Regions from separate parts of the Homo sapiens genome. Here region 1 is linked to region 2. The links come from fine-mapping of genetic effects on gene expression. A gene starts in region 2. The other region holds a variant in brackets. All regions are shown on one strand. Distances are from middle to middle.

Region 1 (16,046 bases), 78 kb before region 2:
ATCAAAAGCCAGGGAAGAGAAAGAAGTAAGGCCTTCATGCCCCAATGAACCCTGTGATGTATATCCTGTATCATATGAAGAAAATTTCTCAAAAATTGGATATTCACTGGCAGTGGAGAAAAAGTATCCTGCATCTCTGTTTCTGTTTCCATAGGAGCTTCCTGGACGATTTAACAGGTCCTCAAGCGAGTCTTCAAAGAAGTGAAAAGAAAATGGATCCCTTTCATGAAAAATTTCTTTAAAAACATCATCTGGCTTATGGAATGTGAAGCCGTACTCACATTCATCATCAAAATGACTTCCACCTCCGTTTAATCCTTCTGTGCCATATTTATCATAAATGTCCCGTTTCTCATCATTTGATAATACCTCGTATGCCTCAGCTACTTCTTTGAATTTTCTCTCTGCTTCTTCTTTATTTTCTGGATTTTTATCAGGGTGCCATTTAAGTGCCACTTTATGATAAGCTTTTTTAATGTCCTCAGGTGAAGCATATCTTTGCAGTCCTAGAACTTCATAGTAATCCACCATGTTTTAACAGATAGTTGGAAGTGGGTGTGCTGGGTATTGAGAACCGTGGTTTCCTCAGCTCAGGCTCTGCTGGTGGTGGTGATAGAGGTAGTGACTGCAAATAGGTACACTTTTATGTTAAAGACAATGTTATTACCATGTGCTAAGAGATGAGGATACTGATTATGTGGCAAGCAGAGTTACAAATATGTCAGAGAGGGCTGCATTATGGTGTCATTCTGGGGTCAGTGTAGGGACTGGACCTTCCAAATAGAGCTAGTCCAGAGTCGTACCAGACCATCCTGAATCCTCTGGACTGTTTCCCCTGTATGTTTCCCTGGAAGCTTCAGGCAGTGCCTCATAAGCCAATGGAATCTGTTGCTAATAGCCACAGCATATCCCTTGCATAATATGACCTCTAGATTACTGCGCCTTAATTGCTTCCCAGCTCTTCTATGCTTTGGTTTAGAAAAATGAAGTACTGACTTACGGGTGAAGAAAGTATTCAAACAGTTGACATATTTATTTCAGTCAAGAAACAGTTCAGAGGGAGATACAAACAAGTAACTTAGTTACAATATAATAGTTATGATGAGAGGAAGTACTGGATGCTAAACAATTATATGAGAGACAGCTCAGGCTGGGGGTGTCAATGAAAGCCTCTTGGAGGAAGTAGCCTGATATGTTAACTTTCTGCATGCCAGTGGTAAGTCATTTGAGATTATAGTATCTTTGTCCACCCAAGGTTTACTGCTGTAAAACATGTAATTAAAGATTTGGAAAGTTGTGTGTTTATGTATTCACTGTATAATTATTGATTGTCTACTTTGTGCCAGGCACCGTTTTAGCCACTGGTGATAGCAGTATTGAACAAAAGACACCAGTTTTCCTGGTGCTTGCATTATAATAGAATACAAATAGGAGAACAAATAAAATAATTTAAGATAATGCGATATGTGCTCCAAAAAAAATAGCAATGTGCTGGGGGCAGAGCGCTACTTTAGATTGGTTTTAGAAGGCTTCTGAGGAGATGACATTATTGCTGAGACCTATATGACAGTCAGCCACATAGTGATCTAATATGGTAGCCACTGGCCATGTTGATGGACATTTTGGTTGTTGCCAGTTGGGGCTGTTGGACATAAAGCTAGCACTTATTTCAAGTACAGTGGGAAGCCTTTGTGGGGAGTGGGGAATATGCAAGTTTAATGATGTGATTTACATTTGTAATGGATCAGTGGCTACTATTTGGAAATTCAGTCATGTATGGGAAAGTAGAATTCGAGAGCCAAATTAGAAACAGACCAAAGGTGATTTTCTTTGGGGATAAACTACCAGTAGTCTAGACCCGAATTTAAAGGTCTTATATTCTATACCTGGCTCATTTTATTGTCTGAGAAAATTCCCTGTAATCTTTGTTTTTCCTCCTCTATGTTGTGTTTATTTTATTTTCCATCACATTTATAACCCCTCAGTTAAATGATACGCTAATGAAATCTAAAACTGTAGTGTATGCTTCTAGTCTTTCAAGACCATTTGTCAGGTCTGAATATTTTTTTGCTTTGCATTTTTATATATACTCATTTTTTAGAGGTATTGTGAAATGCTTAAAACTCAATTTAAATTCTCTCCAGTGTATGTGCTTACATGTACTTATGTGTGGCTTACCCATGATTATAATTTGCCTACCACTGGAAATAATAACCAATAATGTCGAAAATTATTTGAGTACCCTCTGAGTCACACTGTAGCAAGTGCTCATTTAACTGACACAGCACTCTAGCAAAATAAATATTTTATGCCCATAAGAAAACAGACGTTCTGAGAGAGAAAGTAATTTGTCTAAGGCTACATAGCTTGTTAGTGAAAAATCTGATTTTTAAACTTGAGTCTAATTTCAAGTTCTCATTCCACTCTACTGCATTTCTCGGACTAGGACTTAAAGAGTTTAGGTTCTAGGCATTCCACAAACAGATACTGAGAACCTGCTGTTACCGGAAAGGGGTCCCAATCCAGACCCCAAGAGATGGTTCTTGGATCTCGTGCAAGAAAGAATTTCAGTGGAATCCACAGAGTAAAGTAAAAGCAAGTTTATTAAGAAAGTAAAGGAATAAAGAATGGCTACTCCATAGGCAGAGCAGCCCCAAGGGCTGCTGGTTGCCCATTTTTATGGTTATTTCTTGATTATATCCTAAACAGGAAGTGGATTATTCATGCTTCCCCATTTCAGACCATATAGGGTAACTTCCTGACGTTGCCATGGCATCTGTAAACTCTTGGGGTGCTGGTGGGAGTGTAGCAGTGAGGACAATCAGAGGTTACTGTCATTGCCATCTTAGTTTTAGTGGGGTTTGGCCAGCTCCTTTTTTTAAGAACATCACAGGTAAAGCTCACAGGAAGGTGACAGTCTAGGAGAAGATGTTCGCAGTGTCTAAATTTGACAGGGACTTATTTTATTTTCATTATTATTGTTACTATTATTATTATTTGAGGTGGAGTTTCGCTCTTATTGCCCAGGCTGGAGTGCAATGGTGGGGTCTTGGCTCACTGCAACATCTACCTCCCGGGTTCAAGCCATTCTCCTGCCTCAGCCCGCTGAGTAGCTGGGATTACAGGCATGCACCACCACGCCCGGCTAATTTTGTATTTTTAGTAGAGAGGGGGTTTCTCCATGTTGGTCAGGCTGATCTCGAACTCCCAACCTCAGGTGATCTGCCCGCCTCAGCCTCCCAAAGCGCTGGGATTACAGGCATGAGCCACCGCACCCAGCTGGTCAGCTTCTTTACTATAACCTACCTGTTTTATTAGCAGGGTTTTTGTGTCCTGCATTTTGTGCTGACTTCCTATTTCATTCTGTGATTAAGACTGCCTTAACTTACTGGGAATGTAGCCCAGTAGGTCTTAGCCTTATTTTACCAAACCCCTACTGAAGATGGAGTTGCTCTGGTTCAAACGCCTCTGACACTATGATACAGAGAAAAGGTAGAAAATAGGAAATTCTGCTCTTAAGAAATTCATATAGTTTGAAAAAACTAATTTCAGTGGAGTGTAAAGTTATAATACGAGCACTTGTTTCTGCAGTTATACCCTTCTTTGTTGATCCTTTGCCTCCCAGCCATCCGCTGTGCCATTTTCTCTGCCTCTTCACAACAAAACTTATCCAGAGTATTGTCTCAGTGTCTTTGCTTTCTTACATCCTATTCCCTCCTTGGCATACTCCAATCTGTCTTCTGTCTTCTTTACTCTGCTAAAATCGCCAGGGTCTCCAGTGATTGATGTTACCATATCCAGTGGTTGTCCTTTTGGCTTCCTTGTATTTTGAAGCACTTGCCACACTGTGAGCCCTCCTCACTTTTTTTTTTTTTTTTTTTTGAGATGGAGTTTCACTCTCGTTGCCCAGGCTAGAGTACAGTGGTGTGATCTCGGCTCACTGCAACCTCTACTTCCCAGGTTCAAGCCATTCTCCTGCTTCAGCCTCCCGAGTAGCTGGGATTACAGGCATGTGCCACCATGCCTGGCTAATTTTGTATTTTTAGTAGAGACAGGGTTTCTCCATGTTGGTCAGGCTGGTCTCGAACTCCCGACCTCAGGTGATCCACTTGCCTCGGCCTCCCAAAGTGCTGGGATTACAGGTGTGAGCCACTGCGCCTGGCATAGTCCTCCCCACTTCTTAAAACACTTGTTTTTTAACTTCCTAAATACCACACTCTTTTTTTGTGGGGGGCGGGGGGGCAGCGGGTAGAGACAGGGTTTAGCCATGTTGGCCAGGCTGGTCCCGAACTCCTGGCCTCAAGTGATCTGTCTGCCTGCCTCGGCCTCCCAAAGTGCTGGGATTACAAGCATGAGCCACCATGCCCAGCACTAAATACTGTACTCTTCTAGTTTTCCTTCTTTCTCCTGTGCTCTTTCTCACACTAAAATATTACAGTGCCAGGCTTTGTTCAGTCTCCCTGGGTAATACCCATTCCCAGGGCTTTAGATGCCATCTGTGTGCTTATAACACCCTAATTTATATATCTAGCCTAGCACTTTTCTCCCTGAAATTAAGATTGCTCTTTGACCTCTCCATTAAATTTATTTCCAATAAATATCTCAGGCTTTCCTGTTGCATGTAGTGGTACAACCATTTATTCACTTGTTCAAGTCAAAAATCAAGAATTATTCTTAATTCCTCTTTTTTCTTTATTTCTTATGTCCAATTAGAAGCCAGACTCATTGACTTTTAACTTCAAAATACATTTCAAATCAAGTCACTGGGAAAATAAAGTCAAATAACAAGTGATCTCTGCTTCCAAAGATTGTTCATAGTAGACTGGCAAACTAATTAGCAATTATGTGAAGTGTAGTAGGTATTAAAATAGAAATCATAGGAGCGTTGGGGAAGACATCTGAAACAAGCAGAACAGAGGCAGTAGGTGTGAGAAGAGTAAGAGAAGTCTCTTGCGTAAGTGATGTTTGAGCTGGTATTTTTTAGAATTTCTGTAATCGTATAAGCAGGCAGTGTCCACTTTAGACTAAGAGAACTATATTTTTTAATGCAAATGCTATTATGATGCAGAATGATTTAGCCGGGGTTCTTCAAGTAGCTTAGTGTGGCTGCAATAATGTTTTTTGAGGATTAGGTCAGATAAGGGAGCAGGATCCAAATCATGAAGTTTCCTAAGCAAAAGAGTTTGAAGCTTATGAACTGGATATTTTTGAAATAGGACTTAACACACCAGCTTTGCTACTAATTATATGACTTCGGGCAAAAGATGTTTAATGTAAGTAAAAAGCTATTGAGACCTTTTTTAAAAATTTACTGGGAATAAACATCTTAATTTATGTCTCCTGTTAAAGTGTTACTTGTTTGCTTTGAATTTAATAAAGTTAAGCTCCCTCTGCTTGAGAGTGGTCCAAAATATGCTAGGATTATTTCATATGAGCATTGAAAAAGGAATCAGTTAACTTTTTATATTCTGAAATTTTACTGCCTAATGAGATTACAGAAGACACTATGTGTGCATGAGTACGTGTGCACGAGCGTGCATGTGGAGAAGGTGCAGGAGGAGAGAAAGAGAAATCACCAATGCAACAGCAGCCTACTCCACCAGTGGGTTAGTGCTGCTGGAGGGAGATGAAAAGATTAGGAAGGTAAGATAGCTTTGAAGGCTTTGTATTCTAAATTAAGGAGTTAGATTTTTAACTGTCACGTGAGGTAGGCATTATCATCATTATTTTACAAACACAGAATCAGACTCAGAGAAGTAATCTGGACAAGGTTACACACTTAGTACCAGAGAAGCTGAGATTCAAACTCAGGTTTATTTGACTTCATAATCTTTGCTCTTATCCCTCCCCCTTGCCGCTCACTAGGTCCTCTCTGTTTAATCTCAACAATCAATACTGTACAATCTCCTTGTGAACATACAATTTCTGTAAGGACTATGAATTATGAATAATAATATATGTATTTGGGAGAGAAGAGTCTTAAAAGTTAATTCCAGTTTGTAGAAGATTGTTTAGAAAAATCATAGCTTCTTCTAAAAAGATTTAAAAAAAAGAAAAATCATAGCTTCTAAGATGATTACAAAGAAATTGGTGTGGGTTTCCAACCTGGGCAACATAGTGAGACCTCATCTCTACCAAAAATAAAAAAAATTAACCAGTCTTGGTGGCACATACCTGTAGTCCCAGCTACTTGGGAGGCTGAGCCACTGACTCCAGCCTGGGCAACAGAGTGAGACTCTGTCTTAAAAATAAATAAATGAATAAATATTGAAGGAGAGAAGGAAGGAAATATTAGTTTGCATTTTTCTAAAGCATCCAAACTGTTGGAGATGGATAAGTGCATTTATACCATGAAGACTTTCTAGATCTATTGTTTCATTTCATTTATTGCCTAAGCCCAGAGGAACAAAGCTGCAGTGAGCTATGATCATGCCACTACACTCCAGCCTGGGCGACAGAGTGAGACCTGTCTCAAAAAAAAAAAAAAAAAACCCAACAAACAAAACTCCTTATGTGTGAATCCACTGTTGCATTCACCATTTAATATTGTAATGCTCTATTTTGTCTCACCTCCACTAGACTGTGCATTCTTTAAAGACCACAGCATATAGCCTTGTCATTCATGTGTCTTTCTTTGAGCATGTTCCAATCATGTGCAAAGAATTTTTTAATTAATGCTAATAACTAACATTTGTTGTACTCTATGATTAAGCATTTTTCATAAATTATTTTATCTAGCTCTGACATTCCAAGATTAAATGAGATAGCATGTGCATATTTTCTCATGCTTAACATATTCTCAATAAAAAATGTTGATTATCTTTTCCTGAGTTTTAGGACACAGCTTTATGCTATCTCTGTGATACCCTTTCAAACTGCCTCTGTGATATCCTTCCCCTGCCTTTTTTGGTTCCTTTCTTCTGTTTTCATAGCTCCTTATTCATACCTTTATTATATATGTGTG[C/CGT]GTGTGTGTGTGTGTGTGTGTGTGTGTATGTGTATAAAATATTATAGCAGACAAATGTCTCTGAGGGTAAAGATCTCATTTCTGTTTTCCTAAGGCCCAACACAGAGTCTGACACAGAGCAAAGGCCATATAAATATTGAAGGAGGGCCAGGTGCAGTGGCTCATGCCTGTAATCCCAACACTTTGGGAGGCCGAGGTGGGCGGATCACTTGAGGTCAAGAGTTCGAGACCAGCCTGGCCAACAGGATTAAACCCCGTCTCTACAAAAATTAGCCAGACATGGTGGCACGCACCTGTAATCCCAGCTATGTAGGAGGCTTGAGGCAGGAGAATCACTTGAACCCAGGAGGTGGAGGTTGCAGTGAGCCGAGATCATGCCACTGACTCCAGCCTGGGTGACAGAGTGAGACTCTGTCTTAAAAAAAAAATAAATGAATATTGAAGGAGAGAAGGAAGGAAATATTAGTTTGCATTTTTCTAAAGCATCTAAACTGCTAGAGATAAGTGTATTTATACCATGAAGACTTTCTAGATCTATTGTTTCATTTCATTCTCTTTATTCTTCATTCAGGATGTATGTTGTGTTCACAGCGAAGGTACTCCCTTCAGCCTGTCCCAGAAAGGAGGATTCCAAACCGATACTTAGGCCAGCCCAGCCCCTTTACACACCCACACCTCCTCAGACCAGGTAAGGCCTTTTAACTGTGCTATCTCCCCATTTAGGTTCTGTCTAGAGCAATGCTATGCAATAGAACTTCTTGCAGTAAGCTCTGGATCTGTGCTGTTCCATAAGGTAGCCACTAACCTCACATGGCCATTTTACACTAATAAGGTTGCTAGTACAGCTGAGGAGCTGAACTTTTTATTTTATTTAATTTTAATTAATTTAAATTTAAGCTTAACTACATGTGGGTACTGGTGCTTTATTGACAATACTAGTCTAGAACAAGGTTTAAATATGATAGACCTTATAATTCAGAATAATTAATGAAAGGTATGTATTTCAGGATGTTTTTAAAGCAAAGTTCTATTTCTAAGTCAGCTTTTAGAATTGTATACTATTGTGAATTACTGTGTTAAAGACATTTTAGAAAACATGTTTTTTCTTGAAATTATCAAATATTTACTTTAAAATTATAACCTATTTCTATATAGATTAAGCAAGATTTCCAGATTTGTTTGTCACAGATTTGAGAGGTAGTATCCCAGTTGATAAAGGTGATGCAAAAAAATGATAAAGGTTTGTTTTACTAATTTTTTTTTCTGCTATAAGATCCCAGCGTTGCTGCCAGAAGATGTCTTATAACTATTGCTCAAATTTAGACCTAAAGGTTTTTTGTTTTGATTTCTTGCACTTAAGGGGTGAACTATGACTAATGAATATCTCAGAGAGGAAGGTAGGGTAAAAGCAAACACATTGTAGAAAAAGCAATCAGGTTTTCAAGGAAAATTAATTGTTCTTTCTGCCATAAGAAATTAAATATGTATTTGCCATATAAGCATATATATTACTAATGGAAATTTACCTTTAGAAATATGTTCCTTTTTCACTATCCCCACTCAGTGAATGATACCAGTATGTTTCTCAGTGAGGGCTTCCTTTTGCTGATTTTTCATCAGACTCGAATTCCTGCTGGGAAGTCGGCTGAAACTAAGGAAATGCAGCTCACCACTGAAACCCACAAGAAATCAGAGTTTTTCAAAGCTGTAAGGTAAGCTTAATAGCAACCCAGTTGGTATTAATTTTAGTATTTATCTACCCTATCAACCTACCTGTAGACTCGAGTTATTTTTTTAAGTAGAATTGATAGTTTTACCAGCTTTGAAAATTACTGATTTCTTGTGGTGAGATATTTTTACATGGTAAGCTGCATTTTCCAGGCCTTAAACCTAGTAATTATATTGTCAAGATAATGGCCTCTGTATCTAGATTTTTTTGCTCTATACCTTAAGTGCATGTTAAGTATAAGTGAATGTAAATAAATATGTACACGTATATGTTCACATACATATGTATGTGAATATCTGGGGGAAAAGGGATGCCTGTCCTAATTTTACTCTCCTAGACGTGGGATTTTGGACATTGGGGTAAGTGAGAAGGGATGGAAGTAGATGGAATTTTAAAACAGAATTATTAGTATTTTAAACCTCAAACTATCAGATGTACCATTAGGTACAGATTTTTCTGCAGACAAAAGTATCAAAAGAATTAATCATTTGTGTTTCTCCTTCCAGAGATGCAAAACTTGTGGAAGTGTTAAAGTGATTGTAGGGTGAAGCAGAGTAAATTTTTAAGAAAAATTAAAAGGGGCCGGGCGCAGTGGCTCATACATGTAATCCCAGAACTTTGGGAGGCCAAGGTGGGTGGATCACCTGAGGCCAGGAGTTTGAGACCAGCCTAACCAATATGGTGAAATCCTGTCTCTACTAAAAATACCCCCCAAAAAAAAAATTAGCCGGGTGTGGTGGCATATGCCTATAATCTCAGCTACTGGGGAGGCTGAGGCAGGAGAATCACCTGAATCTGGGAGGCGGAGGTTGCAGTGAGCCAGAATTGTGCCACTGCACTCCAGCTTGGGGGACAGAGGGAGACTCTGTCTCAAAAAAAAAGGAAAAAAAATTTAAAGGCATGTAATACTTAAAAAGTCTCTTAGGCCAGGTACAGTGGCTCACGCCTATAATCCCAACACTTTGGAAAGACAAGATGAGAGGATCACTTGAGGTTAGGAGTTCGAGACGAGCATAGGCAACATAGCAAGACCCTGTCTCTATAAGAAATAAAAAAAATTAGTGCTCCTGCCTATAGTCTCAGCTACTCGGGGGACTCAGGTGGGAGGATTGCATGAGCCCAGGAGGTCAAGGATGCAGTGAGCTGTGATCATGCCTCTGCACTCCATCTTGGGTGACAGAATGAGACCGTGTCTCTCTCTCTCAAAAAAAGTCTCTTACGCAGTTGGCTTGTTAGTTTAGGATATAAAATTATGTAATGTGCACTTGGTTTCTCCAAAAGGTTTCATGTTTTGCATATTTCTCTAATACATGGCAGTATGTACTTAATACTTTTGGGAAACATCTCAATGCCTTTCCTAATTATTACGCAAGTTCTATACATACAGAAAAAGAGAATACAGGTAAGCATAGATTTTTTTTTTAATTACTAATAATCCCACAACTCAGAGAAAGCCACTGTTGAGAGGATTTTGGTATATGTTTCTTTTTAGTCCTATTTCTTACATAGGTGTATGTGTGTATAAGTGTACATGTGTACACATTCTTTGCATATTGCTCTATTATTTCCTTAAATTCTTAGAAGTGAAATTACTGGGGCCAGGCGCGGTGGCTCACACCTGTAATCCCAGCACTTTGGGAGGCTGAGGTGGATGGATCACGAGGTCAGGAGTTCGAGACCAGCCTGGCCAACATAGTGAAATCCCGTCTCTACTAAAAATAGAAAAATTAGCTGGGCATGGTGGCGCATGCCTGTAGTCCCAGCTATTCAGGAGGCTGAGGCAGGAGAATCACTTGAACCTGGGAGGCAGAGGTTGCAGTGAGCTGAGATCACGCCATTGCACTCCAGCTTGGGCAACAGAGTGAGACTTTGTCTCAAAAACAAAAACAAAAGTGAAATTACTGGGCCAGTTCCTCTGAATTCTTGGGAGCTATTTTTCCTAGATTTTTCTTTGCCATACCTACCTATCCAAGTTTCCTGAAGCATCAATAGCTTGGAAAATATTTAGCAGGATGATACAGGAAATAAAGAAATTCTGTTCTGGCTGTGCTAGGTTCTGTGATTTTACGGCTAGGTTCTAGTGATTTTCAAAACTTGTCATTTCCTTAGAGAAATCTGAGCACTGTAGACCATTTCTGCTTTTTATGACAGTGCCATCTCTGTGCTAAGGTCTGTATCGGTAGAGATGGAAAATGTTGGTCAGTCTCTTTGATTACTACCTTGTCTCACACTTGACACTCAGACATGAAAATGATTCCATGTAGGAAGGCAAGTGGCATTCTGAACTGTGAGTCTACTTTTTTTTTTTTTTGAGACGGAATTTCGCTCTTGTCGCCCAGGCTGGAGTGCAATGACACAATCTCTGCTCACTGCAACCTCTGCCTCCCGGGTTAAAGCAGTTCTGCTGCCTCAGCCTCCCAAGTAGCTGGGATTACAGGCGCCTGCTACCACATCCGGCTAATTTTTGTATTTTTAGTAGAAATGGGGTTTCACCATGTTGGCCAGGCTAGTCTCGAACTCCTGACCTCAGGTGATCCACCCGCCTCAGCCTCCCAAAGTGCTGGGATTACAGGTGTGAGCCACCACACCCAGCGATATTTACAGATTGTACAGATTATATTATATTATCTGTACAAGAAAGATGCTTCCATGGTTCCCTGATTATTGCCAAAGGAGTAATGTTGTCATTAGCAGGACAGCAAGACATTCATCTCAAAAAAACACTGAAACATATCAGAGAATGAACGGGAAGAATCAGTGGAATTCCTAATGAAGCATTATTTCTAAAATTTTTACATTCTTAAAATTAGTTTTAGAATATGTGGTATAGTTTGGAATGCTAGGTTTAAAAAGGGCTACTCAGGGAGTTGGGCTTGTCAGAATAACTTGTCTGACATATGTAGAACCACTTCATGGTTGTTTTCTTTTTCTTTTTCTTTTTCTTTTTTTTTTTTTTTTTTTTTTTTTGAGACAGAGTCTCGCTCTGTCGCCCAGGCTGGAGTGCAGTGGCGTGATCCGGCTCACTGCAACCTCCGCCTCCCAGATTCAAGCAATTCTCCTGCCTCAGCCTCCAGAGTAGCTGGGACTACACGTGTGCGCCACCACACCTGGCTAATTTTTGTATTTTTAGTAGAGAGGGGGTTTCACCATATTGGTCAGGCTGGTTTTGAACTCCTGACCTTGTGATCTGCCTGCCTTGGCCTCCCAAAGTGCTGGGATTACATGCGTGAGCCACCATGCCTGGCCCACTTCTTGGTTTTCAACTACAGCAGCAAACAGATTTTTAGGGAAATAATCAGAATGCAACTGTGTGGCATGAAATATAAGACGATGCTTTCACCATTTACCGTTTCATCTCTATCGTCAACTATAATGGCAGAAGCCAGGTGCGGTGGCTCACGCCTATAATCCCAGCACTTTGGGAGGCCTGGGCAACGTAGTGAGACCTTATCTCTGCAAAAAAGTAAGCAAAATTAGCTGAGTGTGTTGACAGATGTCTGTAGTCCTAGCTACGCCTATAATCCCAGCACTTTGGGAAGCTGAAGTAGGAGGATTGTTTGAGCCTGGGAAGTCAAGGCTGCAGTCAGCTGAGATTGTGCCACTCCACTTCAGCCTAGGCAACCGAGCAAGACCGTCTCAAAAATAAAATAAAATAGAAATAAAATAAATAAATAAATATAATGGCAGAGACAGTACAGTTACAGTGAATATAATATTTAAAATGATGAAATGATTGATTCTAGAGTGGGTTATAGATAATAATCCCCAAATCTTTTTCCCTTAAGAGTTTCAAAATCAGCTGCCCATCTTTCAGTGATAGTTTAATTGTAGCCGTCTCTTGAGCAAGGGATGCATTTTATTTTTAAAACTTGTTAAATATGGTTGATTTTAATAATATCTAAAAGACAAAGCTTATTTTGGTGGTGGTAAGATTTTTATACTATTTAAAAGATTAAAATGATGCTTGATAACAACTTTGGGGAGTTAGGAAGAAAAATAAAAAATAAATAAAATGATGCTTGAGACCAGGAGGTCAAGGCCGTAGTGAGCCATGATTGCGCCACTGCACTCTAGCCTGGGTGACAGAGTGTTACCCTATCTCAGAAGAATTTAAAAAATTAAAAGGAATCAAGAAATAACAGAAATTGGAAGTGGTTTGAACCTGCCTAGACTGTTGGGTAAGCTTTTTCAAAATATACATACGTGCTAGGACTCTATAAATAGAGTTGTTGAATGAGAATCTCAAAGGGAGGGCTTAGAACATGTGTTTTTGTTTTTGTTTTTTTTGAGACAGGGTCTCACTCTGTTTCCAAGGTTGGAGTACAGTGCCGAGATCATGGCTCACTGGAGTCTTGACCTCCGGGGGTCAAACAATCTTCCTGTCTCAACCTCCTGAATAGCTGGGACTACAGGCATGCACCATCATGCCCAGCTAATTTTTATATTTTTTATAGAGATAAGGTCTCACTATGTTGCCCAGGCTGGTCTTGAACTCCTGGACTCAAGCAATTCTACCACCTTGGCCCCCCAAAGTGCTGGAATTATAGGCATGAGCCACCATACCCAACCGGAACATGTGTTTTGAAGAGCTCCCCGGGCGTTTCTCACATACACCACTAACCTAGTGGGTACTCATTTAGCTAGGTGCATGAGATGCCTGATGACTTAAGGGGACAAGCCAGTTCTGTGGCCATTGGTCATGTTTTAAAGCAGAGAATGTGCCTTCCACATGCCTCTGTAGTCTCATCCCCAGTCACTCAGTCCTTAAATTCATTCACATCTTTATCATCATCACCACCATCAATAAGTGATGACGTTACATTTATCTAACCATTTCAACACTTTTTTAATAGATTATACCTGATAGAATAGTAGACTAAAAGTTTTGTATCCTACAGGTTTTAAATTTAAGTTGAAGGTCTACTTTTTCTATAAGTACTTCACCATGAAGCCCACCTGTTTTATAAAGTAATATATTTTATTTTCTCACCCCAATGTACCTATGTAATTTTATTTGTTTTTGTTTTTGCTTTTTTTGAGATGGGGTCTTGCTCTGTCTCCCAGGCTAAACTGCAGCGGCATGATCATATCTCACTGCAGTCTCGACCTCCCAAGCGATCCTCCCACTTCAGTTTCCCAAGTAGCTAGGACTACAGGCATAAGCCACCATGCCTGGCTAATTTTTTAAATTTTTGTAGAGATGGGATCTCACTTTGTTGCCAGGGCTTACTTATATAATTTTTTTAAATCACTGTATTCATAGTGATTAAATGTTTCCTCTTGTCTTCATCTCCTGATTCAATTTTAATGCAGAATAAATAATGTAGTCTCTATGTAAATAAATTTATAGATGAATAAACCTGTTTTTTACTTACATGTCTAGTACATATTGATAGACCATTTCAGGATGCCATTATACCAATAATCTGTAAACCACCATCTAGTGAAGAATTATAGAGGATTTCCCTGTTTGTTTGTTTGTTTGTTTTTAAGCCCTAGGGAGAAATAGAAAATCTTGAAATATAATAAAGTTTTCATGTAGTATAAATACTAGAAAATTAAAAATAAATGACTTGGCTGGGCACGGTGTCTCACACCTATAATCCCAGCACTTTGGGAGGCCAAGGTGGGCCGATTGCTTGAGGCGTGGAGTTTGAGAACAGCCTGGCCAACGTAGCAAACTCCACCTCTACTAAAAAAAAAAAAAAAAAAAATTAGCCAGGCATGGTGGTGCATGCTTGTAATCCCAGCTACTCAGGAGACTGAGGCATGAGAATCACTTGAACCCAGGAGTCAGAGGTTGCAGTGAGCTAAGATTGCGCCACTGTGCTCCAGCCTAGGCAACAGAGCAAGACTCTGTCTCAAAAAATAAATAAATAAATGACATTTGTATTTCTCTTTTTTACCTTTGTGTGTAGTCCTCATTGACACTGAGAAACTCTCTGAGGTAAAGATTAGCAAGAATCAGCCCTAGACAAGAATTAGGAGCTACCTAAAGAAATGAATAATAATGAAAAGTTTCTAAATGGTCAATGGAGATTCATTCCTAACATGTGAAAAAGCCAAAGACTTCCAGGTCTTCTATGTAAATAATTATTTTGATTTCATTTGTTGTCATAATAGCGGTTGTCCATGTAAATTTTACTCTTCTAAGATCCTGCCTGGCTTTGGATTCCCGGGTGACAACCAGTTCAAGTGTAAATTTTTTATTTTGGTAATAATTATAGCTAATACTTATGTAGTGCTAAGTGTTACGTTTTAAGTGTTTTATTACTTAAATCCACTTAGGTGGATTATTGTATAATCCACATAACAACTTTGTGAAGTCAGTGCTATTGTTATTTCCATTTTACATGAGGAAACTGAGGCACAGAGAAGTTTGGTAGCTCTTTCCAAACTTAGTGAATTGCTAAGCCAGGATTCCAACTCACAAAAACCTAACTCAGAATCCACACTTTCAACCACAAAACAGTGCATAATACCTATGCCAAACATAATACCTGTGTCACTCAGTGAATTGCTAAGCCAGGATTCCAACTCACAAAAACCTAACTCAGAATCCACACTTTCAACCACAAAACAGTGTATAATACCTATGCCAAAAAATACTATCTGGTAATATTTTTTAAAGTATTTTCTCCTTACATTTTTTATAAGACATCCATCTGAGAGAAGTCTTAGTATAAAAGTTATTTCAAGTTTGGAGAGTAGTATACTTTTTTTAAATCAGGTAAAATTTATATGCAGCGAATTTCACAGATCTTACATATGCAGTTCAGTGAGCTTTAACAAAGGTAACCTACAGCTCAGTCAAGATACAGAACATTTCCATCGTCCTGGAAAGTTCCCTCATGCTCCTCCAGTCAGTCTCCACCTTCATAGGCAGCCACTCTTTTGGTTTCTGTCATCATAGACTGTTTTGCCTTTTCTTGACTTTGTGTAAGTAGAATCATACAGAATCATAATATGTATATGTAGCCTTTCTGTTTGTTTAGTTTTGCTCAATATATGCAAATCTATTTAGAGTATTTTTTATTCAGTCATTGCATTTTTTCTGAGAGGCCTGTTTTACATTATAAAGGAAACACTAGCTTTTTCTTTCACCCCATTCTCCAACTGCACAGTAATAGTTTATTAATTACTTCCTTATATGCTGCGAAAACTACCTAATATTAAGCAGACTTCTTTTCAAAATCAGACCATGTTAAAATTCTAATCTAGTTAGTTTCAGGAAATAATTAAAAATACAAACCTAGATTGTAGTAGAGACCTGTATCATTTCATCCATTTTCAGTCTTTGTTATATCTTCCTTTCTGGGTGTTTTGTGTAGCTGGTAAAATATGAAGAACATT
Region 2 (14,819 bases):
TGTATTTTTAGTAGAGATCGGGTTTCTCCATGTTGGCCAGGCTGGTCTTGAACTCCTGGCCTCAAGTGATCCACCCATCTCAGCCTCCCGAGATTGTAATCTCGGGATTACTTGTAATCCAAGTGCTAGGATTACAGGCGTGAGCCACCGCGCTTGGCCTTAATTCTAAAAGTTTTATAGTTTTAGGTTTAAGTTCATGATACACGTTGAGTTAATTTTTGGATAACATGTGAGACATAGGTCAAGGGTTTTTTGTTTTGGTTTGGTTTTTGTTTGCCTACAGATGTTCAATTGCTCCAGCACCATTTGTTAAAAATGGTGTGTTTTTCCTCTACTGAATTACTTTTGTACCTCTGTCAAAATTCAGTTGGGCATATTTGAGTGAGTCTTTTTCTGGGTTCTCTATTCTGTTCCATTGGTCTATGTGTCTATCCTCCACCAACACCAGTCTTGATTACTGCAGTCGTAAAAAATAAGTCTTGAAAGCAGGTAAAGAGATTCCTCCCACTTTATTTTTCCTTTCCAAAATTGTTCTAGCTATTCTAGTTCCTTTGCCTTTTAATGTAAATTTTAGAATAGGCCCGGCTCAGTGGCTCATGCCTATAATCCCAGCACTTCGGGAGGTGGAGGCAGGCAGATCACCTGAGGTCAGGAGTTTGAGACCAGCCCGGCCAACATGGTGAAACCCCATCTCTACTAAAAAAATACAAAAATTGGCTGGGCGCGGTGGCTCACGCCTGTAATTTCAGTACTTTCGGAGGCTGAGGCGGGCAGATCACCTGAGGTAAGGAGTTTGAGACCAGCCTGACCAATATGGTGAAATCCCGTCTCTACTAAAAATACAAAAATTAGCTGGGCATGGTGGCAGGCGCCTGTAGTCCCAGGCGTGGTGGTGGGCACCTGTAGTCCCAGCTACTCAGAAGGGTGAGACAAGAGAATTGCTTGAACCTGGGAGGCAGAGGTTGCAGTGAGCCAAGATCATGCCACTGCACTCCAGCCTGGGCGACAGAATGAGACTCCGTCTCAAAAAAAAAAAAAAAAAATTAGCCAGGCGTGGTGGTAGGTGCCTGTAATCCCAGCTACTTGGGAGGCTGAGGCAGGAGAATCACTTGAACCTGGGAGGTGGAGGTTGCAGTGAACCGAGATCCCACCACTCCACTTCAGCCTGGGTGACAGAGCGAGACTCTGTCTCAAAAAAGAAAAAAATAAAATAATCATCTTGTCTATAAATAAAAAAAAAACTTACTGGGATTTTGATAGGAATTTTGTTAAACTGTATATCAATTTGGTGAAAACTGACATCTTTACAATATTGAATCTTCCAACCCATGAACACCGTATGTCTATTTATTGTAAAAAAATGTGTAGACCAGGTATGGTAGCTCATGCATGTCATCTCAGCACTTTGGGAGGCTGAGGAGCGATGATTGCTTGAGGCCAAGAGTTGGAGACCAGCCTGGGAAACTTGGTGAGACACATCTCTACAAAAAATACCAAAAAATTAGCTGGGCATGGTGACACACGCCTATAGTCCCAGCTACTCGGAATGCTGAAGGAAGAGGATTGCTTGAGCCCAGGAGTCCAAGGTTGCAGGGAGCTGAGATCACACCACTGCACTCCAGACTGGGCAACAAAGGGAGCTTGTGTCTCAAAAATATACATATATTTTTTATTTCTCTTATCAGTGTTGTGTAGTTTTCAGCACACAAGTCTGAAGTATGTTTTGTTAGATTTACACCTAACTATTTCACTTTTTGGATGATTAGAAGTGGCATATTCCTTTCAATTTCAGTGTCCACATATTCTTAGCTAGTATATACAAATACAATTGATTTTGGTATGTTTATCATGTATTCTGTAACCTTGCTGAACTCATTTAGTTGTAAGAGTTTTGCTAGATTCCTTGAGATTTTCTACATAAACCATGTGTCATCTAAAAATGGGACAGTTTTATTTCCTCCTTTCCAACCTGTATGCCTTTTACTTCCCTTTTTTTTTTTTTGAGACAGAGTCTCAATCTGCCACCCAGGCTGGAGTGCAATGGTGCGATCTGGGCTCACTGCAACCTCCGGCTCCCTGGTTCAAGCGATTCTCCTGCCTCAGCCTCCCGAGTAGCTGGGATTACAGGTGTACACCACCACATCTGGCTAATTTTTGTATTTTTGGTAGAGACGGGGTTTCACCATGTTGGCCAGGCTGGTCTGGAACTCCTGATCTCAGGTGATCCACCCGCCTCAGCCTCCCAAAGTGCTAGGATTACAGGCGTAAGCCACTGCGCCTGGCTACTTCCTTTTTTTTTTTTTTTTTTTTTTTTGGTCTTGTCCCACTGGCTAGAAGTTCTAGTGCTATAATAAATAACAGTGAAAGAGTGATGAGGCCTTTCTTGCCTTGTTCCCAATTTTAGGAGAAAGTATTCAGCATTTCACCATTAAGTACACTTGTCCCTTGATGTCCATGGGGGATTGGCTCCAGGATCCCCCACGTATACCAAAATCCCAGGATCTTCAAGTCCCTGAGATAAAATGGTGTAGTATTTGCATATAACCTAGGCATACCTTCCTGCATCCTTTAAATTATCTCTAGATTACTTATAATACAATGTAAATGCTATGTAAATAGTTGACGTACCATATAGTCTAGATAGGAAATAATGACAAGGAAAAAAAGGCTGTACATGTTCAGTACAAACACAACATCCTTATTGGGTTTTTTCCCCCAAGTATTTTTGATCCCTTGTTGGTTGAATCCACAGATACAGAGGACCAGAGGTATAACATCGGCGGGTTTTTGTACCTGCTCCTTATCACATTGAAGAAGTTCCCCTTCTACTTCTGTTTTTCTGAGAATTTATATCATGAATGGATGTTTAATTTTGCAAATGTTTTGTGTGCACCTATTGATATAATCATGTGATTTTTCTTCTTGAGCCCATTAATATGGAAGAATCCATTGATTTATTTTGAAATATTGAACCAGCCTTGCATCCCTGGAAAAAACCCCACTTGGCCATGGTGAATAATCATTTTTATATTTGCTAATATTTTGTCCCATTAACAAAAATTTTAAAAATGTTTGTAGCTATCATTTGCTAATATTTTGTTGCGGATTTTTGTGTGTATATTCATGACAGTTATTATTTCTGTAGTTTTCTTTTTTGTACTCTGTCTGGTTTTGTTATCAGAGTAAAACTAGCTTCATAAAATTATAGATGATCCTCAACTTTTTGTTTTTTCCTTTGAGACAAGTTCTGGGTCTGCCCAGGCTGGAGTGCAGTAGCACGATCTCAGCTCACTACAGTTTCCACCTCCCATGCTCACGCTTGTAATACCAGCACTTTGGGAGGCCAAGGCAGGTGTATCACTTAAGGTCAGTAGTTCGACACCAGCCTGGGCAACATGGCAAAACCCCGCCTCTACTAAAAATACAAAAATTAGCCAGGCATGGTGGCATGTGCCTGCAGTCCCAGCTACTCAGGAGACTGAGGCACAAGAATCACTTGAAGCCGGGAGGCAGAGTTTGCAGTGAGCCGAGATCACACCACTGCACTCCAGCCAGGGCAACAGAGTGAGATTCTGTCTCAAAAAAAAAAAAAAAAGTTATAGGGCTATTCAAATTATTTCATCTTGGATGACTTGTGGTAACTTGTTTTTGAGGAAGTGATCAATTTTGCCTAAGTCATTAGATTTTTTTTTCTTTTTTTTTTGAAACAGGGTCTCACTCTGTTACCCAGCTGTAGTGCAGTGGTGCAATCATGGCTCACTGCAGCCTCGACCTCCTAGGCTCAAGAGATCCTCCCACCTCAGCCTCCCATGTAGCTGAGACCACAGGTGTGTGGCACCATGCTGGGCTAATTTTTTTTTATTTTTTGTGAGGCAGGGTCTCACTATGTTGCCCAGACCAGTCAACTCCTATGTTCAAGCAATCCTCCCACTTCGGCCTCCCAAAGTGCTGGGATTACAGGTGTGGGCCACTGCACCTGGCTTGGACTTATCTATTTCTACTTTTAGGTCTGTCAGTTTTCACTTCACATGTTTTGCAGTGCTGTTTTTTAGTGCATACATATTTAGGATTGCTATGTCTTCTTAGTGGATTGACTCTTTTAGCATCGTATAATGTCCCGCTCTTTCTACGTTAATTTTCTTTGCTCCAAAGTCCACTTTAGTTTATTTTAGTATAGTCACTCTTGCTTTCCTTTGATGAATGCTTGTATGACACAACTTTTTTCATCCTTTTACTTGCAACTTGCCTATATCATATCTGTAGTGAATTTGTTGCAGATAACATACAACTGGTTTTTTTTAAAATCCACTCTGCCAATTTCTTTTAATTGGCATATTTAGACCATCTGCATTTAATGCAATTGTTGATATGTTAGGGCTGAAGTCTGTCATTTTATTTTTTTCTATTTTTCTAATCAGCTTCCTCAGGTTGAAGTGATTATTTTATTTTTGAGACAAGGTATCACTCTATCACTTACACTAGAGTATAGTGCCGAAATCGCAGCTCACGGCAGTCTTGACATTGGTGGGCTCAAGTCATCCTCCTGCCTCAGCCTCCCAAGTAGTTAAGAATACAGTTGTGCACCACCACACTCATGTTTGTGTGTGTGTGTCTGTGTGTGTGTGTGTGTGTGTGTGTGTGTGTATTGTTTGTAGAGATGAGGTCTCATTATGTTGCCAAGGCTGGTCTCGAACTCCTGGGCTCAAGGGATCCTCTTGCCTTGGCCTCCCAAAGTGCTGGGATTACAGATGCGAGCCAGCGTGCCCCACCTCATTTTATTTTTTGTTTTCTGCTTGTTCTCTGTTTTTCTGCCTTTCTGTGTTAAACATTTTTTACAATTCCATTTTATCTATAGTGTTTCTCTTCTGAGTGTGTCTCTTTGTATAGCTTTTTAAGTGATGGCTCATATATACATGACTTATGACAGTCTACTAATGTCATCATTTTACCAGTTTGAGAGAAATATAAAAACCTTACCTCCCTCTGTGTCCCTTCACCATTCCCAGTTTATACGATAATTGTTTGAAATATTTTCTCCATATAGATTTAGGACTATATTAGATAATGCTATAATTTTTTTTTTTGGAGACAGAGTCTCGCTCTGTCACCCAGGCTGGAGTGCAGTGGCACAATCTCAGCACATTGCAACCTCTGCCTCTCGGGTACCTGGGATTATAGGCATGTGCCACTATGCAAAGCTAATTTTTTTTTTTTTTTTTTTTTTTTTAGCAGAGACGGGGTTTCACCTTGTTGGCCAGGATGGTCTCGAATTCCTTTTTTTTTTTTTTTTTTTTTGAGACGGAGTCTCGCTCTGTCACCCAGGCTAGAGTGCAGTGGTGCGATCTCAGCTCACTGCAAGCTCTGCCTCCCGGGTTCACGCCATTCTCCTGCCTCAGCCTCCCGAGTAGCTGGGACTACAGGTGCCCGCCACCACACTCAGCTAATTTTTTTGTATTTTTAGTAGAGATGGGGTTTCATCGTGTTAGCCAGGATGGTCTCGATCTCCTGACCTCGTGATCCACCCGCCTCGGCCTCCCAAAGTGCTGGGATTACAGGCGTGAGCCACCGCGCCCGGCCTCGAATTCCTGACCTCAGGTGATCTGCCTGCCTTGGCCTCCCAAGGTGCTGGGATTACAGGCATGAGCCACTGCGCCCGACCTAAAGTAAAAATTATAGCATTCCCAGCACTTTGGGAGGCCGAGGTGGGCAGATCATGAGGTCAAGAGATTGAGACCATCTTGGCTAACACAGTGAAACCCCATCTCTACTAAAAATACAAAAAATTAGCCAGGCGTGGTGTCAAGTACCTGTAGTCCCAGCTTCTTGGGAGGCTGAGGCATGAGAATTGCTTGAACCCGGGAGGTGGAGGTTGTAGTGAGCCGAGATGGCCCCACTGCACTCCAGCCTGGGCAGCAGAGCAAGACTCTGTCTCCAAAATGAATTTTTACTTCAACTGTCATACATAATTTAGAAAACTCAAAAGGATAAGAAAAGCTTATTGCATTTGCCCATATTTTTACTTTCGTGTTTGTTTTTTCTAATTTTCCAAGGTCCTTGTTTTATTGTTTTCTTTCTTTTTAGAGAACTTCCATTAGCCCTTTCTTGGGGAAGGCCTACTGGTGACAAATTCTCTTAGTTTTCCTTCTGAGAATGTCTTGATTCCCCCTTGATTCCTGAAGGACATTTTCACTACATATAGCATTCTGAGTTGACAGGTGTTTTTTTGTATTCGCTTTTTGCATGAAAAACATTTTGCCACTTCTGCTGGCTTCTGTGGTTTGCAGTGAGAAATCTGCCATTCAAATGATTTTTCGTCTTTAGGTAAGGTGTTTTCTCTGGCTGCTGTCAAGATTTCTTCTCTCTTTAGTTTTCAGAAGTTTAATTGTGATGTGTTGTGGCATGGATTTCTATGGGTGTATTCTGTGTAGTGTTTGCTCAGCTTCTTGAATCTATAGATTTTTCTTGCCAAAGTTGGCAAGTATCCAGCCATTATTTTACCCATTACCTTTTCAACCTGGCCCTCTTTATTCTCTCCTCCTGGAACCCTGAGGACAGAAATAGTAGATCTTTTGTAGTATTTCCACAGGTCCACAGGCTCTGTTTTTAATTTTGTTTTCAGTCTATTTTTATTTTCTCTTTCTTGTTCAGATCAGGTAATTTCTATTGTTTTTTTGTTTGTTTGTTTGTTTTTTGGAGACAGTCTCACTCCATTGCCCAAGCTAGATTGCAGTGGTGCGATCTCAGCTCACTGCAACATCCATCTCCCAGGTTCAAGTGATTTTCCTGCCTCAGCCTCCTGAGTAGCTGGGAATACAGGCACGCACCACCACACCTGGCTAATTTTTTGTACTTTTAGTAGGGACAGGGTTTCACCATGTTGCCCAGGCTGGTCTCGAACTCCCGAGCTCAGACAATCCACCTGCCTCAGCTTCCCAAAGTGCTGGGATTAGAGGTGTGAGCCACCACGCCCAGCCTTATTTCTACTGTTCTATCCTCCAGTTCAGTTATTTTTTTTTCTTCTGTCACTTCCATGTCTTTTTTTCCTCCCAGCTTCTGTTGGGAAAAATGTCACTTCCATTCTGTTATTGATCCCATCCACTGAGAGTTTTTAAATTCAGTTATTTGCATTTTTCAGTTCTAAGACTTTTGTTCTTTTTTTTTTTTTTTGAGACAGAGTCTTTCTCTGTTGCCCAGGTTGGAGTGCAGTGGCACGATCTCAGCTCACTGCAACCTCTGCCTCCTGGGTTCAAGCGATTCTCCTGCCTCAGCCTCCCAAGTAGCTGGGATTACAGGCGCGAACCACGACACCTGGCTAATTTTTTATATTTTTGGTAGAGATGAGGTTTCACCATGTTGGTCAGGCTGGTCTTGAACTCCTGACCTCAAGTGATCTGCCCGCTTTGGCCTTCCAAAGTGCTGGGATTACAGGCGCAAGCCACCCTTCCTGGAGGATACCTGAACTAAAAATACAAAAACTTACCCAGGCGTTGGTGGCGGGTGCCTATAATCCCAGCTACAGGAGAGGCTGCAGAAGGAGAATCGCTTGAATCCAGGAGTTGGAGGCTGCAGTGAGCTGAGATTACACCACTGCACTCCAGCCTGGGCAAGAGAGCAAGACCATACAAAAGAAAAAAAATAATAACCTTCAATGCCTTCCCATAAGATCTGTAATAAAATCCCTGCATGCTCTGGCCCCTGCCTGCCTCTCTGACATCTCTTACTACTTTCTGCTTGCTCAGTAAGCTCCAAATTTATTTACTCAACACATAATGAGCACATACAATGTACCAGTTTTTGTTACCAATAAACAAATCAAAATTCCCTTTTCTTGCTGAGGACATACAAAAAACAATAATCCTAATACACAAGTAAATGTCAAAATATGTTTGTTTGTTAGGAGATAGGGTCTTGCTCTGTCACTCAGGCTGGAGTGCAGTGGTGCAATTTCAGCTCACTGCAGCCTCGAATTCCCAGGTTCAAGGGATTCTCCCACCTCCTTAGCTTCCTGAGTAGCTGGGACCACATGCCCAACTTAGAAAAAATATGTTAGAAGGTACATGTAAATTGGATGGGGAAGTAGATCATGTAGGACCATTTAAAGGACTTCAGCTTAAATGTCACTCTTCACAGAAGTCTTATTTAATCACCCAATTTACTGTTGCCTCCTTCTCCCCTCAATCTCATTACCTTGTTTTCTTCACAACACTTATTGATACCTGAGACTGTTTTTTTTTTTTTGAGACAGAGTTTCACTCTGTCACTCAGGCTGGAGTGCAATGGCACAATCTTGGCTCACTGCAACTGTCACGTCCCGGGTTCAAGCAATTCTCCTGCCTCAGCCTCCCAAGTAGCTGGGATTACAGGTGCAAGCCACCACACCCGGCTAAATTTTGTATTTTGAGTAGAGATGGGGTTTTGCCATGTTGGCTGGGCTGGTCTTGAACTCCTGACCTCAGGTAATCCACCCACCTCGGCCTCCCAAAGTGCTGGGATTACAGGCATGAGCCACCATGCCCGGCCAGAGACTTTTTTCAATGCAGCATTTTTTACTAATTTATTATGAGATAGGGTCTCGCTCTGTCACCCAGGCTGGTATGCAGTGGCGCCATCTCAGCTCACTGCAACCTCCATGTATGGGCTCAGGTAATCCTCCCCCCTCAGCCTCCAGAGTAGCTGGGACTAAAGGCATGTGCCACCACGCCTAGCTTACTTTTGTATTTTTTGTAGAGACGTTTCACCATGTTGGCCAGGCTGGTCTGGAATTCCTGGACTCAAGTGATCCGGCTGCCTTGGCCTCCCAAAGTGCTGGGATTACAGACCTAAGCCACCCCGCCTGGCGGATACGTGAAACTTTTTTTTTTTTTTTTGAGATAAACTCTCACTTTGTTGCCCAGGCTGGAGGCACGATCTTGGCTCACTGCTACCTCCACCTCCCGGGTTCAATCCATTCTCCTGCCTCAGCCTCCTGAGTAGCTGGGACTACAGGTACCCGCCACCACGCCCGGCTAATTTTTTTGTATTTTTAGTAGAGACAGGGTTTCACCATGTTGGCCAGGCTGGTCTCTAACTCCTGACCTTAGGTGATTCTCCCACCTCGGCCTCCCAAAGTGCTGGGATTACAGGCTAGAGCCACCTCGACTGGCCCTGAGACTTCTTGATGTATTTATTTGTTGACTTGCATATTATTCCCTAACTAGGGGTTTATTTGACTCTGTTATTATGTCTCTTCTGTTTAAAACAGAACCTGGTAAATATCAATACTTTTATTGAATGATTGATAAATATGTCTTCAAGACCTTAATTTACAATGGGTTTCTAGTATTCCTGTCAGGGCCTGTAGGCACACAACAAATTAACAACAGAAATTTTAACAAAGTCATTAAAACTTGGGCTAAGAAAAACTTTGTAGGGTTCTTGTAGCCCTTTAAGGTCTCACACAATTTTTCTTTCCAAGTCTGGATAAAGCTGTGGTGGTCTTTTCCCGGATCTGTTGTTGCTGTTTATAACTAACAAACAAATCTCAGTTCTTTCTCTTTTATTATTTTTTTTGGGGGGGAACGGAGTCTCGCTCTGTCACCCAGGCTGGAGTAGAGTGGCTCGATCTCGGCTCACTGCCACCTCCACCTCCCGGGTTCAAGAGATTCTCCTGCCTCAGCCTCCTGAGTAGCTGGGACTACAGGCGCGTGCCACCACACCCAGCTAATTTTTGTATTTTTAGTAGGGACGGGGTTTCGTCATGTTGGCCAGGCTGGTCTCAAACTCCTGACCTCAGGTAATCCACCTGCCTCGGCCTCCCAAAGTGGCTCCCAGGCGTGAGCCACCGCGCCCAGCCTATTCTTTCTCTTTAGCAATAGAGTCAGCACGCTCCATTACCCGCCAGTTATCTTTTAAGAGAAAATACAAGGCTTCAAATGCACCTGTACGACATCTAAGAGTGCTCTGGCAGAGTCACACCTCTGCAAGGTTAGAGATGTCAAAGGGAGTCCTGGTCTAGCCAGAAATGGGAGAGTGACAAAGTACAGGTGCTTGGGTCGGGTGGGATGGCTCACTCCTGTGATCCCAGCACTTTGGGAGGCCGAAGTGGGAGGATCACTTGGGCCCAGGAGTTCGAGACCAGCCTAGGCAACATAGTGAGACCTTGTCTCTATTTTTTAAAAAAATTAAAAAAGAAAAAAAAAAAAAGCGGCTCTAGCACTTTGGGAGGCCGAGGCAGGCGGATCACCTGAGGTCAGGAGTTCGGGACCAGCCTGGCTAACGTGGTGAAACCCCGTTTCTACTAAAAATACAAAAAATTAGCCGGGCGTGGTGGCGGGCGCCTGTAATCTCAGCTACTCGGGAGGCTGAGGCAGGAGAATCGCTTGAATCCTGGAGGCGGAGGTTGCAGTGGGCCGAAATCGCGCCATTACACTCCAGCCTGGGCAACAAGAGTTAAAAAAGAATGCCTCACAAAAATTCAAGAAATACAGCGACTGCAGATGGGTCGGTTTCACTACAGCACAAGCAGCGGAAAAAGGACACAGATCGGGGAGAAATCACCCTACAAAGATGACAACTGAGGAATGCGGAGTGGGGACTGACACACGTTACGGTGAAACCGTGCACCACGACCAAAGGCGGTCCTAGGACTGCGACTATGTGGGCGCAGAGGCCACCCCCCAGGCTTGGCGGGCGAGTAAAGGCAGGGCTGGGGGCCTGCTCAGTGTGGCCTTAGGGAGGAACTTCGGGGGTCTCCTCTCTCCCCATCGAATCCCTGAGCAGTTCCCGAACAGAAATCGGAGACCAGACGGTGCCTGGGCCCCAGCCCTCCCACGGGGACTGCACCTTGGGCCTGGCTCGGAAGCGGGTCAGAGTCTGCGAAAGACCAGCGAGGACTCTTGGGTTTCGGGGCAGGCCGCGGGCGCCCACCCACGCCAGCACCGGGAGCCGCGCGGCGACTCGGCGAGCCCGGCAGGCAGGACAGGACTGCGGCGCAGGTCTGGCTCAGGCGGAGGAAGCAGCCGCCGCCCCAGCTGACGGAGTGCGGCCGGGGGCTTCCCAGAGGAGGCGGCGACGTCGAGCCCTTTCGAACGTTTCCACCCGGCTAGCTCACGTAGCCTCGGCCCCGCCCGGCCCCGCCCGGCCCCGCCCCACCCACTCCGGCCACCGCCCCCTCCCCGGCCTACAGTTCGCGGGTGGGGCGACCTGCGACAGCCCCTTTAAGAGGCGTGGTCACGTGCTCCGCCCCCACCTCCGCCTCGCGCGCCAGTAAGGGGTGGGGTGCGGGAGGAGGTGCCGGGGAGGTGGGGGGAGCGAAGTGTGCGCTGCTGCGCAGGCGCGGTGGTCGGACGACAGACCGTGTGTTTCCAAAATGGCGGCAGCGATGGATGTGGATACCCCGAGCGGCACCAACAGCGGCGCGGGCAAGAAGCGCTTTGAAGTGAAAAAGGTTGGGTCTCGCCAGCGCCTTCCTCAGGGAAGCTAGAGAGGCGCGGATCTGGCTGGCAGGCCCGAGGATGGTCGAGGCGCGGAGTAAAGGGTTTCATTTCAGGGCGTTCCTGGGACCGGGTACCACGAAAGGAAGCCGGGGGGCGGGTCTTAGAGTTGATCGGCGTGACGGCGGCCCACTGTTGGGGGAAGTGTTGGTTTCGCTGTGAGGCTAAGGGGCCAATCACAGAGCTGCTTATTGAGATACGCGGGGTTGCGACTTGGCGGCGGGAGCCAAGCGCTTGAGCTGTCACTGGAGTGGTTGAGAGGTGGGGGAAGGACAGGGTAGGGTGGGGTGGGGTGGGTGGAATGGGGAGTCGAAGCGAATGCGGCGGTGGAGGATGGGGCAGTGCGGCGAGAGCCTGGAACCTGAGGTCCTACCGCATTAGAGGCCTCTGAGGACCCCCCTTGGTGATCTTGCTCCGCCCCTTTTTGAAGCTTGGGGTCCTCTCACTTGGAGGGGTCCTCTCACTTGGAGGGATCCTCGCTGAACCGAGGCCTCACACTGCCTGGTTAGAGTCTGGAGTGTAATGCTTGGCTCTTCTGAGACGTCTGTTGGCTTTTCACACAACCACCCCACTCTTGGGTTCTCTGTCACGTCCAGAATCTCCCCCTTCCAAAATAATAATAAAAAGCATGGTGGAACTTGTTAAGAAAATCCGAGCCCAAATCCTGTGGCAGTTAGGGAGGGTTGAGTACTAGTCGCGAACGACTTGGTAAGCGTGGGAAAGCAAAAATGGAACGTGTCTTTTTGCATGAAATGCCTTTTAGTGGTTTGCCACAGTTTGGGAGAACAGTATCGATTCTCACCTAACATGAAAGCTGTTCAAAATGGAGATTCTAAAATAGGGAAGATATTCCTAGAACATCTGGCTAAACACTGACAATATCCCCCGTCCTAGTGCTTTTTGGTGTCTCATTGTGGCCACTGCTGCTCAGTTACAGCCAGCAGCCATATTGAAAAATAATAGAAGTAGGGGCTTTTCCTCCACCTTGAAGCTGTGATGTGAAAAGTGGTAAAGAAGTTACTAGGCACTGAGAATGGGGTTTGAAAGCGAAGAAGGTTTGGGAGTATTTGTAATTGAGGAAGCCAGAGTTGAATGAATGAAATTCTGTTAAACTCTTACTGGAATTATTATCTTAATAGAAGAGTCTAAACATATAAAAGTTGAGAACATCAGTTTATTTTATGGTAAGAATCAAAATTCTAGTGAATTGTAGAATTTGTTATGAAGTAATCTAAGATTTAAGTGATGACCTTGTTCTGTGTACTGACACGGGTATTTAATTATCCAGCTTATCCCATGATTACCCATTTTATGATCCAGTCATTATCTTAGTTCATTCTGTTCTCTAGCTTTCACTTCATTGCTCATGCTTCCAGAGCTGTGTAGAGCAGATACTTATTCAGATTTTGAGCTCTTCTGCAACTGCCACCAAAACCTGCACAGAAATTCAAGTTTGTGCCCTTTTTTTTTTTTTTTTTTTTTTTTTGAGATGGAGTCTCACTCTGTCGCCCAGGCTGGAGTGCAGTGGCACGATCTTGGCTCACTGCAACCTCCGTCCCCCAGATTCAAGCGATTCTCCTGCCTCAGCTTCCCAAACAGCTGGTATTATAGACACCCGCCACCAGGCCTGGCTAATTTTTGTATTTTTAGTAAAGATAGGATTTTGCCATGTTGGCCAGGCTGGTCTTGAACTCCTGACCTCAGTGATCGGCCCGCCTCGGCCTCCCAAAATGCTAGGACTATAGGCGTGAGCCACTGCACCCGGCCAGACTAAATTATTTTAAACTATAGGAAACAAATTAAAAGATGACATTAATTTCTGTGTTCATATACTCAGCCTTTTGGAGAATAGAACATACGTGTAGTCTACTGTTGTCTTTGGTATAATAAGATTAACGTAATATCCAAAAACTTTTGTTTGGTGGTTCCCTGTGGCCAAAGAGATGATAACTGCAGCTGCAGCCTGAGGTCCTAAAGAGTATGTGTGTGTGTTACAAGCAGAATGCACTGTTCCCTCTTTTTGTCTTTGCAGTGGAATGCAGTAGCCCTCTGGGCCTGGGATATTGTGGTTGATAACTGTGCCATCTGCAGGAACCACATTATGGATCTTTGTAAGTAATTGGAGGAGGATGGGAGGAAGTTGAGAAGGTTGCAGAGATTGTGGCTATCTTGATGTGACTGATTTTCTTCTTCACACGAGGAGATAGCAAGCCTACTCTGAGCACTCGGTCTTCTGTATCTAGTCTGTTGGTGTGTTTGAAATAGAGTAGTTTTTTTATGATGTCCTGGAGGCATACCCAGCTCTCAGAATAAATCTACTCAATCTAAAGATGGCAGGGACACATTTAGAATTAATTGTGGACGACAGGCACTGTTGATTTTTCCTGCATATCTTCCATCTTGTACCTAGACTCAAAGGTAGAAATAGTGAAAGGAGGAAAATAAACTTTGAGCTAAAATATTCTGAGGCCAAGCGCAGTGGCTCATGCTTGTAATCCCAGCACTTTGGGAGGCCAAGGCGGGCAGATCATTTGAGGCCAGGAGTTGACCAACCTGGCCAACATGGTGAAACCCTGTCTCTACTAAAAATACAAAAATTAGCTGGGCGTACTGGTGCATGTCTGTAATCCCAGCTACTTGGCAGGCTGAGGCAGGAGAATTGCTTGAACCTGGGAGGCAGAGGTGGCAGTGAGCCGAGATCACACCACTGCACTACAACCTGGGCGACACAGCAAGACTCAAAGTCTCAAAAAAAAAAAAAAGTCTATCTGATCTAATTTTTGCTGGTCATTGTTTACAAAGGAAAGAAGCGTTAAGGAGTGAGGATTTTGTATGTTAGGCCCAAACATAATAAAAAGGAAATCATTGCCAACATCTAAATAAATAATTAATTGCACTAAAGAAATTTCATTTAAATCTCCACATATTTTATTACATGTAGTGGTCAGCACATAGTGATCTGATTATAGTCTTTGATGAACTGATTTCCTGTCCTTACAGTAGAAGGGACAAGAATGTTGATCACACCAGGAACAGTTGAGGTTACTTTTTCATCCGGGAACTAAAATGATTTGTTACTGAGGCCAGAAATGGAGGAAAGAAACTTTAAGTTTCTAGAAATGGAATTATAGGAACTTATTTTTCAGATCACTCACCTGCCTTTACAACTTTGTCTTGAGTCACTCCTGCTCACTCTGTTAGTTTACCTGGATGCTTTTTTTTTTTTTTAACTGACCACGGTGGCCAAAGCAGCCATGGCCCCGGCCAGTTTTCCATTTTTTTTCCTTATTCTGAGATGGAGTCGCCCAGGTTGGAGTGCAGTGGCGTGATCTCAGCTCACTGCAACCT

Alleles and levels. Positions count from the first base shown, and alleles are read on the strand shown. Sizes are in standard deviations (SD) of each study's normalised expression.
As copies of C replace CGT in region 1, the expression in monocytes after Pam3CSK4 of the gene that starts at base 11,327 in region 2 goes up (moderate effect, 0.71 SD a copy in Quach 2016).

The links. PIP is the estimated chance that this variant, and not a neighbour inherited with it, causes the effect.
Region 1: its variant is fine-mapped to the expression of RBX1 in monocytes after Pam3CSK4 (Quach 2016, PIP 0.95).

What each region holds. Positions count from the first base shown.
Region 1 is chr22:40,861,464-40,877,509 of GRCh38, forward strand. It overlaps XPNPEP3 (X-prolyl aminopeptidase 3), which reads left to right. Exons shown (of 10, transcript NM_022098.4): 2 at 7,536-7,652. DNAJB7 (DnaJ heat shock protein family (Hsp40) member B7) reads right to left here and starts at 650. Exons shown (of 1, transcript NM_145174.2): 1 at 1-650. The coding sequence starts at 531. LOC124905124 (a long non-coding RNA gene) reads right to left here. Exons shown (of 3, transcript XR_007068111.1): 1 at 15,946-16,046; 2 at 14,600-14,685; 3 at 13,884-14,188. The variant C/CGT (reference allele first, on the strand shown) is at 6,965.
Region 2 is chr22:40,940,052-40,954,870 of GRCh38, forward strand. RBX1 (ring-box 1) reads left to right here and starts at 11,327. Exons shown (of 5, transcript NM_014248.4): 1 at 11,327-11,425; 2 at 13,504-13,582. The coding sequence starts at 11,348. RefSeq lists enhancers at 10,289-10,879, 11,394-11,603, 12,059-12,647 and a silencer at 10,764-11,343.